Linked DNA regions of Homo sapiens. The protein of the gene in region 1 interacts with the protein of each later gene in a biochemical or structural test. Each region holds a gene or a part of one and is shown on either strand. Other genes may lie near its edges.

The links. The genes of interacting proteins can lie anywhere in the genome.
Region 2: of the proteins of CCNB1 (region 1) and RB1, one has a biochemical effect on the other in vitro, tested with the Homo sapiens proteins (2 studies listed by BioGRID).
Region 3: of the proteins of CCNB1 (region 1) and ZC3HC1, one has a biochemical effect on the other in vitro, tested with the Homo sapiens proteins (3 studies listed by BioGRID, with this or other methods).
Region 4: the proteins of CCNB1 (region 1) and UBE3D form a complex in vitro, tested with the Homo sapiens proteins (one study listed by BioGRID).

The regions. Positions count from the first base shown.
Region 1 is NC_000005.10:69,173,650-69,177,149, forward strand, and holds part of CCNB1 (G2/mitotic-specific cyclin-B1), read left to right. Parts: intron 1-601; coding exon 602-760; intron 761-1,227; coding exon 1,228-1,464; intron 1,465-1,747; coding exon 1,748-1,888; intron 1,889-2,174; exon of another isoform or gene 2,175-2,278; intron 2,279-3,500. UniProt on the Homo sapiens protein: Essential for the control of the cell cycle at the G2/M (mitosis) transition.
Region 2 is NC_000013.11:48,376,751-48,380,250, forward strand, and holds part of RB1 (retinoblastoma-associated protein), read left to right. Parts: intron 1-167; coding exon 168-284; intron 285-2,843; coding exon 2,844-2,900; intron 2,901-3,084; exon of another isoform or gene 3,085-3,124; intron 3,125-3,302; coding exon 3,303-3,334; intron 3,335-3,414; coding exon 3,415-3,491; intron 3,492-3,500. UniProt on the Homo sapiens protein: Tumor suppressor that is a key regulator of the G1/S transition of the cell cycle. The hypophosphorylated form binds transcription regulators of the E2F family, preventing transcription of E2F-responsive genes.
Region 3 is NC_000007.14:130,017,792-130,020,374, reverse strand, and holds the end of ZC3HC1 (zinc finger C3HC-type protein 1), read left to right. Parts: intron 1-1,642; coding exon 1,643-1,711; 3' UTR 1,712-2,083; downstream 2,084-2,583. UniProt on the Homo sapiens protein: Required for proper positioning of a substantial amount of TPR at the nuclear basket (NB) through interaction with TPR.
Region 4 is NC_000006.12:83,020,842-83,024,341, reverse strand, and holds part of UBE3D (E3 ubiquitin-protein ligase E3D), read left to right. Parts: intron 1-303; coding exon 304-373; intron 374-1,518; coding exon of another isoform or gene 1,519-1,531; exon of another isoform or gene 1,532-1,673; intron 1,674-1,780; coding exon 1,781-1,889; intron 1,890-3,500. UniProt on the Homo sapiens protein: E3 ubiquitin-protein ligase which accepts ubiquitin from specific E2 ubiquitin-conjugating enzymes, and transfers it to substrates, generally promoting their degradation by the proteasome.

The DNA of each region.
Region 1 (3,500 bases):
ATAATGTAGTATCTTTATTTGGAAGGGAGTGGACCAGCAGCAGTTGTGGTGAAGAATATCGTAAGACCTGACAATATAAAAAAGCTGTCATACTGTCCTATCTAATGTTTGCCTTTTTTTTCTTTTTTTTTTGGGGTGGGGAGACAGTCTCACTCTGTCACCCAGGCTGGAGTGCAGTGGTGCAATCTCGGCTCCCTGCAACCTCCACCTGCCAGGTTCAAGCAATTCTCCTGCCTCAGCCTCCCAAGTAGCTGGAACTACAGGTGTGCGCAACCATGCCCAGCTAATTTTTGTATTTTTAGTAAAGACAGGTTTTGCCATGTTGGCCAGGCTGGTCTCGAACTCCTGGCTGCAAGCAATCTGCCAACTTCAGCCTCCCAAAGTGCTGGGATTACAGGCGTGAGCCACCACGCCAGCCTTCATGTTTGCTTTATTTCTTGGTGATGGTGTTGTTTGTGGTTGACCATATGAATAATTGAATTAAGAACTGATATAGATTATAAATGCCCCAGTGCTACTGTAGGAACTAACTGATCTTTCTGGACATAAATGTGTCACATGGAGTCATGTTTCTAAGAATAATCAGCATTTTCTTTTGCAGGAAGAGCAAGCAGTCAGACCAAAATACCTACTGGGTCGGGAAGTCACTGGAAACATGAGAGCCATCCTAATTGACTGGCTAGTACAGGTTCAAATGAAATTCAGGTTGTTGCAGGAGACCATGTACATGACTGTCTCCATTATTGATCGGTTCATGCAGGTGAGCATTTCAGTAAGAGTTTTCCCTTCCAGGATTCTAGCCGAGTCATAAGAAACTGATGTTTTCAGGCCAGTCTGGGCGCAGTGGCTCATGCCTGTAATCCCAGCGGGCGGGTGGATCACAAGGTTAGGAGATCGAGACCATCCTGGCCAACGCAGTAAAACCCTGTCTCTACTAAAAATACAAAAAATTAGCCGGGCATGGTGGCGGGCGCCTGTAGTCCCAGCTACTGGAGGCGGAGGTTGCAGTGAGCTGAGATCACGCCATTGCACTCCAGCCTGGGTGACAGAGCGAGACTCAAAAAAAAAAGAAAGAAATAAACTGACTTTTTCAACTAAAATCTTTCTTGGGGGATATGGTGTCATTAAGATTTTGCTATGGGAGAATGTCTTTCTACCTCTCCTTCATCATAGCTCTGTGTCTCCTTTTCAAACATTTTATTCACCCTATTGAAATTCCCATTGCAGAATAATTGTGTGCCCAAGAAGATGCTGCAGCTGGTTGGTGTCACTGCCATGTTTATTGCAAGCAAATATGAAGAAATGTACCCTCCAGAAATTGGTGACTTTGCTTTTGTGACTGACAACACTTATACTAAGCACCAAATCAGACAGATGGAAATGAAGATTCTAAGAGCTTTAAACTTTGGTCTGGGTCGGCCTCTACCTTTGCACTTCCTTCGGAGAGCATCTAAGATTGGAGAGGTACAGGTTTCTTGAGAAACCTCTCCGTATGGGTACATTAGGGGGAACACTGCTGCTGACCAAGCACGTTGAATTCAACTGACCTGTATTATACCTAACTACATGGGGAAGGGATAAAGTTGTTCTTTATTTCTAGTCAGGCTGCATGTTAATATTAGGACTTTCCATGGGCATTTGAGAGTTTGTAGACAAACATTTGTAGTTAAAGATACATATGGGCATGCAGGTTAGTGCCAAAGGAAAATTTTCTGAAAGAAACTCAGTAACATGGGTTTTGTTTCAGGTTGATGTCGAGCAACATACTTTGGCCAAATACCTGATGGAACTAACTATGTTGGACTATGACATGGTGCACTTTCCTCCTTCTCAAATTGCAGCAGGAGCTTTTTGCTTAGCACTGAAAATTCTGGATAATGGTGAATGGGTAAGCTGTGTCCCACAGAACTCCTAAGCTTTTAAATTTTAAAGAGTGACTAAATACAGAACTTTTGTTATTAAAAGGCAATTCAAGTGGTTCATAAATATGGGATCTACTGAAGGAATAGTTAAAAAAGATGTCTTAGAATGTTTCCACATCTTTTTGTTTTTGAGACAAGGTCTCGCTCTGTCACTCAGGCTGGAGTGCAGTGGTGCAGTCTTGGCCCACTGCAACATCAGCCTCCAGAGTAGCTGGGATTACAGGTGTCTGTCTAGTTTTTAAATTTTTTTCATGTCAGATGGGTAATATGCCCACATTGTAACAAGGTTTGAGGGTGGCACGTTTCACATGTTCACATGAACACCAAATCATCACACTTATGAACTACAAAAGAGTCGCCCACCAGCCTGGGCAACATAGCAAATCCTCATCTTTACAAAAAATATATAAAATATATATATATATATATATATATATATATATACAGGCACACGCCTGTAGTCCCAGCTACTCTGGAGGCTGAGCTTTGTATTTTTTGTAGACATGGGGTCTCTCTATATTACCCAGGCTGGTCTTGAAACTCTGGGCTCAAGCGATCCACCCACCTCCACTTACCAAAGTGTTGGAATTACAGGCGTGAGCCATTGCAACCAGTCGAGTGTTTCCATTTCTTTCCCTGATTTCAACTTTATTCCCTTTGAGAAAGGTAGAGCAACTTTTACTCCTTACAGATGGAGAAACTTGAAGGTCAAATGACATACTAGTAGTTCATTCATATTCATTGATTCAACAAATGCTTCTCCTATGTGACAGGCACTACCCTAGGTCTTTTTTTGTTTTTTCGAGACGGAGTCTCTCTCTGTCGCCCAGGCTGGAGAGCAGTGGCGTGATCTCGGCTCACTGCAACCTCCGCCTCCTGGGTTCATGCCATTCTCCTGCCTCAGCCTCCCGAGTAGCTGGGACTACAGGTGCCTGCCACCACGCCCGGCTAATTTTATATATATATATATATTTTTTTTTAGTAGAGATGGGGTTTCACCGTGTTAGCCAGGATGGTCTTGATCTCCTGACCTCGTGATCCGCCCACCTTGGCCTCCCAAAGTGCTGGGATTACAGGCGTGAGCCATTGTGCCCGGCCTACCCTAGGTCTTAAGAATAGAACTATGTAGCTGGGTGCAGTGGCTTACATCTGTAATCCCAGCACTTTGGGAGGCAGAGTTGGGCAGATCACGAGCTCAAAAGTTCAAGACCAGCCTGACCAACATGGTGAAACCCTATCTCTACTAAAAATACAAAAATTAGCCAGGTGTGGCAGTGCGCGCCTGTAATCCCAGCTACTCAGGAGGCTGAGGCAGGAGAATCACTTGAACCTGGGGGCGGAGGTTGCAGTGAGCCGAGATCATACCATGCACTCCAGCCTGGAGCGAGACTCCATCTCAAAAAAAAAAAAAATTACAAAGTTGGCCTCAAGGAAGTGGAGTCTAGTTTTAGGGTGGGCAAGTCAGCAATTACAAAAGTGCAATTAGGTTTGAGCAGAGGAAGCATGAGAGCACCTAGGAAAGGAGTCTTTAGCTTTGTCTTAAATTTCAGTTATATTAATTATACAGTACCCATCTCT
Region 2 (3,500 bases), on another chromosome or scaffold:
GAAATGATATTGTCTGCTTATGTTCAGTAGTTGTGGTTACCTAGTTATTATGGAAGTGTTTCCACATTTTTATGAACAATTTAAAAAGTCATATATTATGGAGCAGAAAATATTAATTCTGATTACACAGTATCCTCGACATTGATTTCTGTTTTTACCTCCTAAAGAACTGCACAGTGAATCCAAAAGAAAGTATACTGAAAAGAGTGAAGGATATAGGATACATCTTTAAAGAGAAATTTGCTAAAGCTGTGGGACAGGGTTGTGTCGAAATTGGATCACAGGTAACTTGAATTCATTGTAATTCGTGGTACTATAGAGTAATAATATTAAAAGCAGCATCTTTCCAGTTCGTATAAATACTCTAACAGTATTTGTCTAGTAGTATAAAATACTGTCAGATACTATATCCCTGCTGCCTGTGTATGCTGCTATTTATGGGTAACTTTATGGAAAACTACCTCCCACCCCATTATAAAAACTATGTAATAAAGGAACACATAGCCATTGTAGAAATTTTGGAAAATACAACTAAGAAAAAAATTGAAATCTTTGATATTAAATTTTTGATTTTGCTTTGACTTCTACATGTATGACTGTTCATGTATGCATATCCTAATGTGAATGGGACTATACATGCCATTTGTCAGTGATATTATTGAGTGATATTATTTCAGGAAATCTAAAGCTAATATAATAGGTAAGAGTATGGGCCATGGAGTGACAGCCCTGGGTTTATATTTGGTTCTACCATTGTTGATCTTGGACATGTCATTTAACTTCTCTGAGATTCAGGTTCTATATTTGCTCTGCTTTGTTGTGTGGCATTAATGAGGATAATATACAAAAATATATTGGAAAACTGGAGTCCACTGTACACATTTATTTCAGTGTAGTGAGGTTATATTTTGATGCCATCAGTGTTTTAAACATTGATATTTAATGGTTCTTTTTGATTCTACAGCCATGCACCACTTAACAGGGATATGTTCTGACAAATGCATCATTAGGCAATTTTGTTGTGTGAACCTGGTAGAGTGTGTCTGTACAAACCTAGATGGTATAGCCGATTGTACATCTAAGCTGTATGATATAGCCTATTCATTCCTAGGCTACAGGCCTCTACAGCATGTGTACTGAATACTGTAGGTAATGGTAACATAATGTGTTACCATTTGTGTATCTAAATATATCCAAACATAGAAAAGGTAAAGATATAGTACAAAAGATAAAAAATGGAACATTTGCACAGAGCACTTACTATGAAAGGAGCTTACAGGATTGAAAGTTGCTCTGAATGAGTCAGTGAGTCGAGTGGCAAGTGAATGTGAAGGCCTACAATATTACCTATGACATGACTGTACACTATCGTAGACTTTATAAATACTACACTTAGGCTAAACTAATTTCATAAACATTTTTTCTTTCTTCAGTAGTAAATTAACCATAGCTCACTGTAACTTTTTTACTTTATAAATCTTCAGTTTGTAAGAAACTTTTGACTCTTATAACACTTAGCTTAAAACACAAACACCTTATACAGCTGTACAAAAATATTTTCTTTCTTTATAATCCTTATTCTGTACACTTTTTTCTATTTAAAAATTTTTTCAATTTCATAAAGATTTTTGCCAAAAACAAAGGCAAACACACACATTAGCCTAGGCCTACACAGGATCAGGATTAACAATACCACTGTCTTCTGCCTCCAAATTCTGTCCCAAGTCTTCAGGGACAATAAAATGCATAGAGCTGTCAACTCCTATGATGATGATGCTATCTTCTGGAATATCTCCTGAAGGAGCTGCCTGAGGGTGTTTTACATTTAACTTTTTTTTTTTTTTACAAGTAGAAGGAGGATGCTCTAAACTAATAAAAAGTATAGTATAATAAATACATAAACCAGTAACATGTTCATTATTAAGTATTATGTACTGTACATAATTGTATGTACTATACTTTTATATGACTGGCAGTGCAATAGGTTTATTTACATCAGCATCATCACAAAGATGTGAGTAATGTAATGCATTGCACTACATTACACTAAACAATAGGAATTTTTCAGCTCCATTATAATCTTATGGGACTACTGTTAGATATGCAGTCAGTTATTGACCAAAAACGTTGTTATGCGGTGCATGATTATATATGAGATTTTTGCTCTTAGTTTGGAAGGAAATAATATGGTGTGTGTTTATATTTCTAAAATTTGGTTATTCTTTCAAATAATGGGAACTAGTTATTTGGCTAAAACTTCTTGCTCATAAGGTCAGTTTGATCTGATTTTTGCCTGTGTCAGTTTTACTAAATTTATGGACAAAGACTGTCCTCTTAATCCTGGACAGCTATCTTGAAAATACATGTCCTAGGTCATGAGAAATGTTATATAAGGTACATAAAGTGCTTAAAATAGTACTGGGCACATAACCTATCTTTAGTATGAATGATATAAACTGAAATGGAGTTAAGGAAATCCAGGTACTGGACCTACCCTCTTGTTAATTTACTTGGGAATGTTAATCACCACTTAATACTTAAGTTGTGAGTTTTAGACAAGCTAGCTTTTGTGTTGTCTTGGCGGCCATATTTGTAAGAAGGGTGAGAAGTATGTTTTAAGAAAAGGCTTTTTAAAAAATTTTAGTAATTGTCAGCTGGGTATAGTGGTACATGCCTATAATCCCAGCCTCTTGGGAGGCCAAAGCAGGAGGATCTCTTGAGCCCAGGAGTGTGAAGGCCAGCCTGGGCAAAACAGTGAGACTCCATCTCAAAAAAAAAAAAAATTTCATAATTGTGATTTTCTAAAATAGCAGGCTCTTATTTTTCTTTTTGTTTGTTTGTAGCGATACAAACTTGGAGTTCGCTTGTATTACCGAGTAATGGAATCCATGCTTAAATCAGTAAGTTAAAAACAATATAAAAAAATTTCAGCCGGGCGCGGTGGCTCACGCCTGCAATCCCAGCACTTTGGGAGGCCGAGGTGGGCAGATCAGGAGGTCAAGGCATCAAGATCATCCTGGCCAAAATGGTGAAACCCTGTCTCTACTAAAAGTACAAAAATTAGCTGGGCGTGGTGGTGTAGACCTGTAGTCCCAGCTACTTGGCAGGCTGAGGCAGGAGAATCCCTTGAACCAGGGAGGTGGAGGTTGCAGTGAGCCAAGATTGTGCCATTTCACCCCAGCCTGGCAACAGAGCAAGACACCATCTAAAAAAAAAAAAAAAAAAAAAAAAAATTCAATGCTGACACAAATAAGGTTTCAATTAAACAACTTCTTTTTTTTTTTTTAAATTATCTGTTTCAGGAAGAAGAACGATTATCCATTCAAAATTTTAGGTAAATTTTTTACTTTTAGTAAAAAATTTTTTTCTTTTTATAGAAGTAAGTATTTTATAATCTTTTTTTTTTTCCTTTAGCAAACTTCTGAATGACAACATTTTTCATATGTCTTTATTGGCGTGCGCTCTTGAGGTTGTAATGGCCACATATAGCAGTAAGTTAA
Region 3 (2,583 bases), on another chromosome or scaffold:
AGGAGAATTGGGAGGTGGAGGTTGCAGTGAGCCGAGATCGCACTACTACACTCCAGCGTGGGCAACAGAGTGAGACTCCCTTTCAAAAAAAAAAAAAAAAGAAAAAAGTGTATACTATTTTTTCAACTCAGGTTTCTTTCAACTTTGTCACTCTATTAACTAAATTTCCCTCAGTCATTAGTAAGAGTTCAAACTTTTTCCTCCTGGAACTTATTGAAACATCCTCAAAGAGGATAGATTTTTAAAAAACTGTGAAAGTGGGCCGGGCGCAGTGGCTCACGCCTGTAATCCCAGCACTTTGGGAGGCCGAGGCAGGCAGATCATGAGGTCAGGAGATCAAGACCATCCTGGCCAACATGGTGAAACTCCATCTCTACTAAAAATACAAAAATTAGCTGGGCGTGGTGGCATATGCCTGTAATCCCAGCTACTCAGGAGGCTGAGGCAGGAGAATCGCTTGAACCAGGGAGTCAAGAGGTTGCAGTGAGCTGAAATGGCACCACAGCACTCCAGCCTGGCGACAGAGCGAGACCTGTCTCAAAAAAAAAAAAAAAAAAAAAAAAAACCTGTGAAAGCGTCATATGAGAAACTGGAGGTAACTGTGGATCATCTTGCTAGACATTCTTTGTACTCTCACTGAGACCCTTTCTGCGTGGAATACTTGCTCTTCATTGTGACTCTCAAAGGCAGACAGAACCAAGTGTTCTGATTCACCAAGAGCTTTTGTCTCCTAATGAATTACTTTGTCTCCCTTTACCACCATTTCTCAGAATCTCAGAGTACTTCATTGGCATGATCAGATGGCACTGCGATTCTTCCTATTATTAGCACTGCTGGCTAAAACATAAAAGCGGTGAAGACCAAGGCCAGAGCTTAAACTCATAGGGGTCATTCAACTCTGTTTTTATTAGTTGTCCTTGGTTTATACTGTTAACCTCAGCTAGGCATCACATTAAGTATAAGTACTTATTCACAATAAATAATGAACTAGGGCCAATTCAGCATCATGAATGAAAAACCAGTGCAGGCCGGGCGTGGTGGCTCACGCCTGTAATCCCAGCACTTTGGGAGGCCGAGGCAGGCGGATCACGAGGTCAGGAGATCAAGACCATCCTGGCTAACACGGTGAGACCCCCATCTCTACTAAAAATACAAAAAATTAGCCAGGAGTGGTGGCGGGTGCCTGTAGTCCCAGCTACTGGGTGAGGCAGGAGAATGGCGTGAACCCGGGAGGCAGAGCTTGCAGTGAGCCGAGATTGCGCCACTGCACTCCAGCCTGGGTGACAGAGTGAGACTCCGTCTCAAAAAAAAAAAAAAAAAGAAAAACCAGTGCAAAACATGTGCTGTACTAACGGCAAGTCAGAAGTGTCATCCTCAAGTACAAAGATGAGGACAGATACAGATGCCTGAAGGGAGGATATGAGCCGTGTCTTAGAGGCTCAGAGTGTGTTAACAGGAGTCTGACAGTAGAACGTTGGCCCCTCGATCTTTAGTCTGACTTTAGGTATACATTATGTATAGCATACTACAAAATGAATTTTTACTTAGTCCTAGACATATCCAGATCATTGTGGGACAAATGATCTATCCTTTGTCTCTATAAAAGAACGTAATCACTAATAATAAGCTTTTCTACCTACAGAGTCTCTCTGAGAAATCAAGGAAAGTATTCCGAATATTTCGGCAGTGGGAATCTCTGTGCTCATGCTGAAGATACTCCAGCGCCTTCCTGGAGATAGCTGGAATGAGAGTGACTTTTTGAAAAATTAAGGCTGAGTTCCTTTCGGTCAGCTGACACTAAGTTTTTCCTGTTCTGGGTTAATCATAAGGAGCCCCCTGCCATAGCAAAGGCAGTGAGTGTCAACTATCTGCATCTGGCTGAGAGAGACCCGTTTCCTTTCAGGGATGTGGACAGGGTAAGGGCAGCAAGCATGGTTCTGTTAAAGGAGTGTGGGATTAACAGACTAGAAGGAAGACTAAGGACCTGACCACCCATTTCAGCATCTTCAATGTGGAGCAGTGTTCTGAGGACTCTTCTATCCTAGGACTATGACAGTGTGTATTAATAAAATATTTGCTAAGATTCTCATTGTTGGAGAACTGTTTTCCCCCTTGCCCTGTGGGCCGGAGAAACTTCAGTGGAACATTCAACTTTTGATTTTCAGATTGGCTGCAAAGCCTAAAATTTGTGATTCCAGTCAAGGAGGTATAATCTTTCCTAAACCAAAAGCAAGATGATTTTCATTATGCCACCAGGAAATTTCCTGGTGTGTTATAGTGAATGGTCAACTGATAATTTTCTCCTTGCTTTGATAATAACAGAATAAAACAATGTAATGGGGAGGAAGGCACTTCAGAAGAGACCCCTCTCCATGTGCCATTGAATGCATGAGTCCCCCAGTTGGGCTTCCCCAAGACTCGTTGCTTTTGGGGGATCATCAGTTTTTGTGGTAGAGAAGGTGGACCCTGAACTGCCCACTGATAAAGTAACCATGACCTAGCAAAGGCTAGAAAGTGATTATTCTCTGATATGCCATGTTTTTCGTCACTGAGATTGTTTTGTTTTATACTTTTGTACTGAAG
Region 4 (3,500 bases), on another chromosome or scaffold:
GACTAATTTCTATCTAAGTGCACTATGCCTGTGATGTGACTAACTTTTATAATCTTCCATATGTGTAAGCAGAGTCTCTGGGCATTATTTTCTAAAAAGACACAGAAGCTTCAGAACTATCTCCTTGTAGTGACCAATGCTTTGTCTTCTGAAACTAAGTAGTTTTGGGAAAATGTTTACAGAATATTAATTTTACCAGTATATTTAATATTTAGTTTGGAATATCCTAATTTGGAGTCAACTTGCCCACAATAAAATTATTAGTGTATTGGGGAGAGTCTTAATTTTCTTTTTTGTTTCTAGAAACCACCAAGTTTTATATGACAGAGATAATTATTCAGTCATCTGAGAGGAGTTTTCCTATCATACCAAGGTACAAATAGCAAATTACATTTATTTATTTGTAATTTATTTTTTTCCCCATTCAGACCTTTATTTTTTATTTTTTGGTTTTGAATTTATTTTTTATTTTAATAGGTTTTTGGGAACAGATGATGTTTGCTTACATGAATAGTGATAATTTCTGAGATTTGGGTGCATCCATCACACAAGCACTGTTCACTGTACTCAAGTGTAGTCTTTTATCTCTTACCCCTCCCCCTGCCTTTTCTCCAAGTCCTCAAAGTCCATTGTATTATTCTTATGCCTTTGCATCCTCATAGCTTCGTTCCCACTTATGAAGGAGAACATACGATGTTTGGTTTTCCATTCCTGAGTTACTTCACTTAGAATAATAGTCTCCAGTTACATCCAGGATGCTGTGAATGCCATTATTTCGTTCCTTTTTGTGGCTAAGTAGTATTCCATGGCATATATTTGTAATTCCAAATGTAGGAAAAAGGAAGTACAATTGATCATATGGGAATTCATTTTTATTCATACCTTTCTTTATTTGGAAAAGGAAAGAGAAAGCCTTTTTGATAGTTGAACCAAACCACACATATAAAAGTTTTGAGGATTTTAAAAAATGTTTTGATCATATAGTGCTGTAGACAAATGTGCTCTTATAAATCTTCTAATTCTGAAAGTTTTCTATGCTTATTTCTATGTGCCAGATATCTAGAATCTTATCACCCAGTCACCAATAAGTTTTTTGAATAATTTCTGGTTTTAATTTGAATTATTTAAAATTTGAAACATGGGTCAGTTTCAAATGACTCCTATGTTTTAAAAACATGGTACTTAGTCACTAAATCTATTAGTGTTTTTATTTCTTTGACTCTTTAGTTTGCAAACAAGTTAACCATGATATGTCTTTATTCCAGTTTATTTGTTGATATCCAAAAATTATAGCAATCTTTGAGTATAGCCTTGAACTTATCCTTATGTAAATACTTTGATTCTGTACCTCAGAGCTGACACTTTAGGGAGATCCAAATGGAAGAAAATGTAGACAATACTGTCTGATGTTTGGAAGGAAATTTCTTGCCTTCTTTTGTAAGTTAGTTATTCTCTGTTTAATATGCTACAGCACAAATGGAGTATTGACTTGTTCTAACATGGTATTTTTTTATTCAGTAGGGGTGAATAGTTAGGTTTGGTGTGGAAAGTGTATCAAGGATTGGAGAATAGGTTTTAAGAAGAATGGAGCAAACCTGAATACATTAAAATATATTAAAATCCACATCAGTGCAGATTCTGAGGGAATGAGCAGTCCGTAGAAAAGTCTGGCATGTGGATATGTCTGCCTTTTAGGTACCGTGTGTGTATTTTTTGCTTATCTTGCCAGTTAGAGTTATTATGAGATACACATTGTAAAAATTGATTTCTGTTCAAACAGGTCTTGGTTTGTCCAGAGCGTGATCGCCCAGTGTCTGGTGCAGCTCTCCTCTGCTAGAAGCACTTTTAGATTCACGATTCAAGGTCAGGATGACAAAGTGTATATCTTGGTAAGAAATTATTTTATCCAGCTTTTTGTAGCCTAGGAATCCAAGGTCTCAGAATTCTTCAGTTTTTTCATCCTTTTTTCTTAATTCTCAGGTGTGGAAAATAAGTGATTAAAAATGTTAATATCAGGCTGGGCACGGTGGCTTATGCCTGAAATCCCAGCACTTTGGGAGGCCAAGGTGGGTGGATCACTTGAGGTCAGGAGTTCGAGACCAGCCTGGCCAACATGGGGAAACCCCATCTCTACTAAAAATACAAAAATTAGCCTGACATGGTGGCCCATGCCTGTAGTCTCAGCTACTCAGGAAGCTGTGGCAGGAGAATCGCTTGAACTCAGGAGGTGGAGGTTGCATTGAGCCAAGATGGTGCCGCTGCACTCAAGCCTGGGTGACAGAGCAAGACTCCATCTTAAAAAAAAAAAAGTTAATATCAGTTTAATTCATAAATCAAACTCCTTTATTTTAATAACAGATGATCAAGTGCCTCTATGTACTAGGTACTACGGATACAGAGAAAAATCCTGATTCCTGCTATTTAGAAGCTCATACCACAAAATCAGGGTTTTTTTGTTTTTTGTTTTTTTTTTGAGATGGAGTATCACTCTGTCGCTCAGACTGGAGTGCAGTGGCGTGATCTCAGCTCACTGCAAGCTCAGCCTCCTGGGTTCATGCCATTCTTCTGCCCCAGTCTCCCGAGTAGGTGGGACTACAGGCGCCCGCCACCACGCCCGGCTAATTTTTTTGTATTTTTTTAGTAGAGACGGGGTTTCACCATGTTAGCCAGGATGGTCTCGATCTCCTGACCTCGTGATCCACCCACCTCGGCCTCCCAAAATGCTGGGATTACAGGCATGAGCCACCACGCCCAGCCAAAATCAAGTTTTTTACTCTCAGTTTGTAATGGCTTTTTTGGGGTCACTATAACACTATTCTGTCCCACTTTTTTTTTTTTCCTATTTAGTACTCTTATGTTTAGAATATGTCCTATTGCTCCTGTTTGTTTTTTGTTTTTTTGAGACAAGGTCTTACTCTATCACACAGGCTGGAGTGCAATGGCATGATTATGACTTAACCATAGCCTCGACTTCCCAGGCTAAAGTGATCCTCCCACCTCAGCCTTCTGAATAGCTGAGACTCCAGGCCTACTCCACCATTCCCAGACAATTTTTAAATTTTTTGTGAAGACGAGGTCTTGCTATGTTGCCCAGGTTGGTCTCAAACTCCTGGGCTGAAGTAATCCTCCCACTTTGGCCTCCCAAACTGTTGGGATTATAGTGGGATTACAGGCATGAGCCACCATGCCTGGCCTTCTTCTGTTGTTTTTAATTGCCTCTGATTCTGTGATATTTGAGAAACAGTGGCAATTTTTGAGGAAGAGGCTCTGTGGCTAGCAATCATCCCAGCATGTACCACTAGAGCCTAATATTACACTACCTCTGAAAAACAGTGTCCTGCAGAAGCAAATTTTGAGCATTTATCTGGATAGTCAAGAATCATAGCCCAAGTATCTTCTCTGCTTCTACATCTATTTTATTCAACCAGTAAACAGGTATGGAGCACTTCTTATATGAAAGACACTGTTCCAGGTGCTCAAGGTAGAACACAAATGCCTTC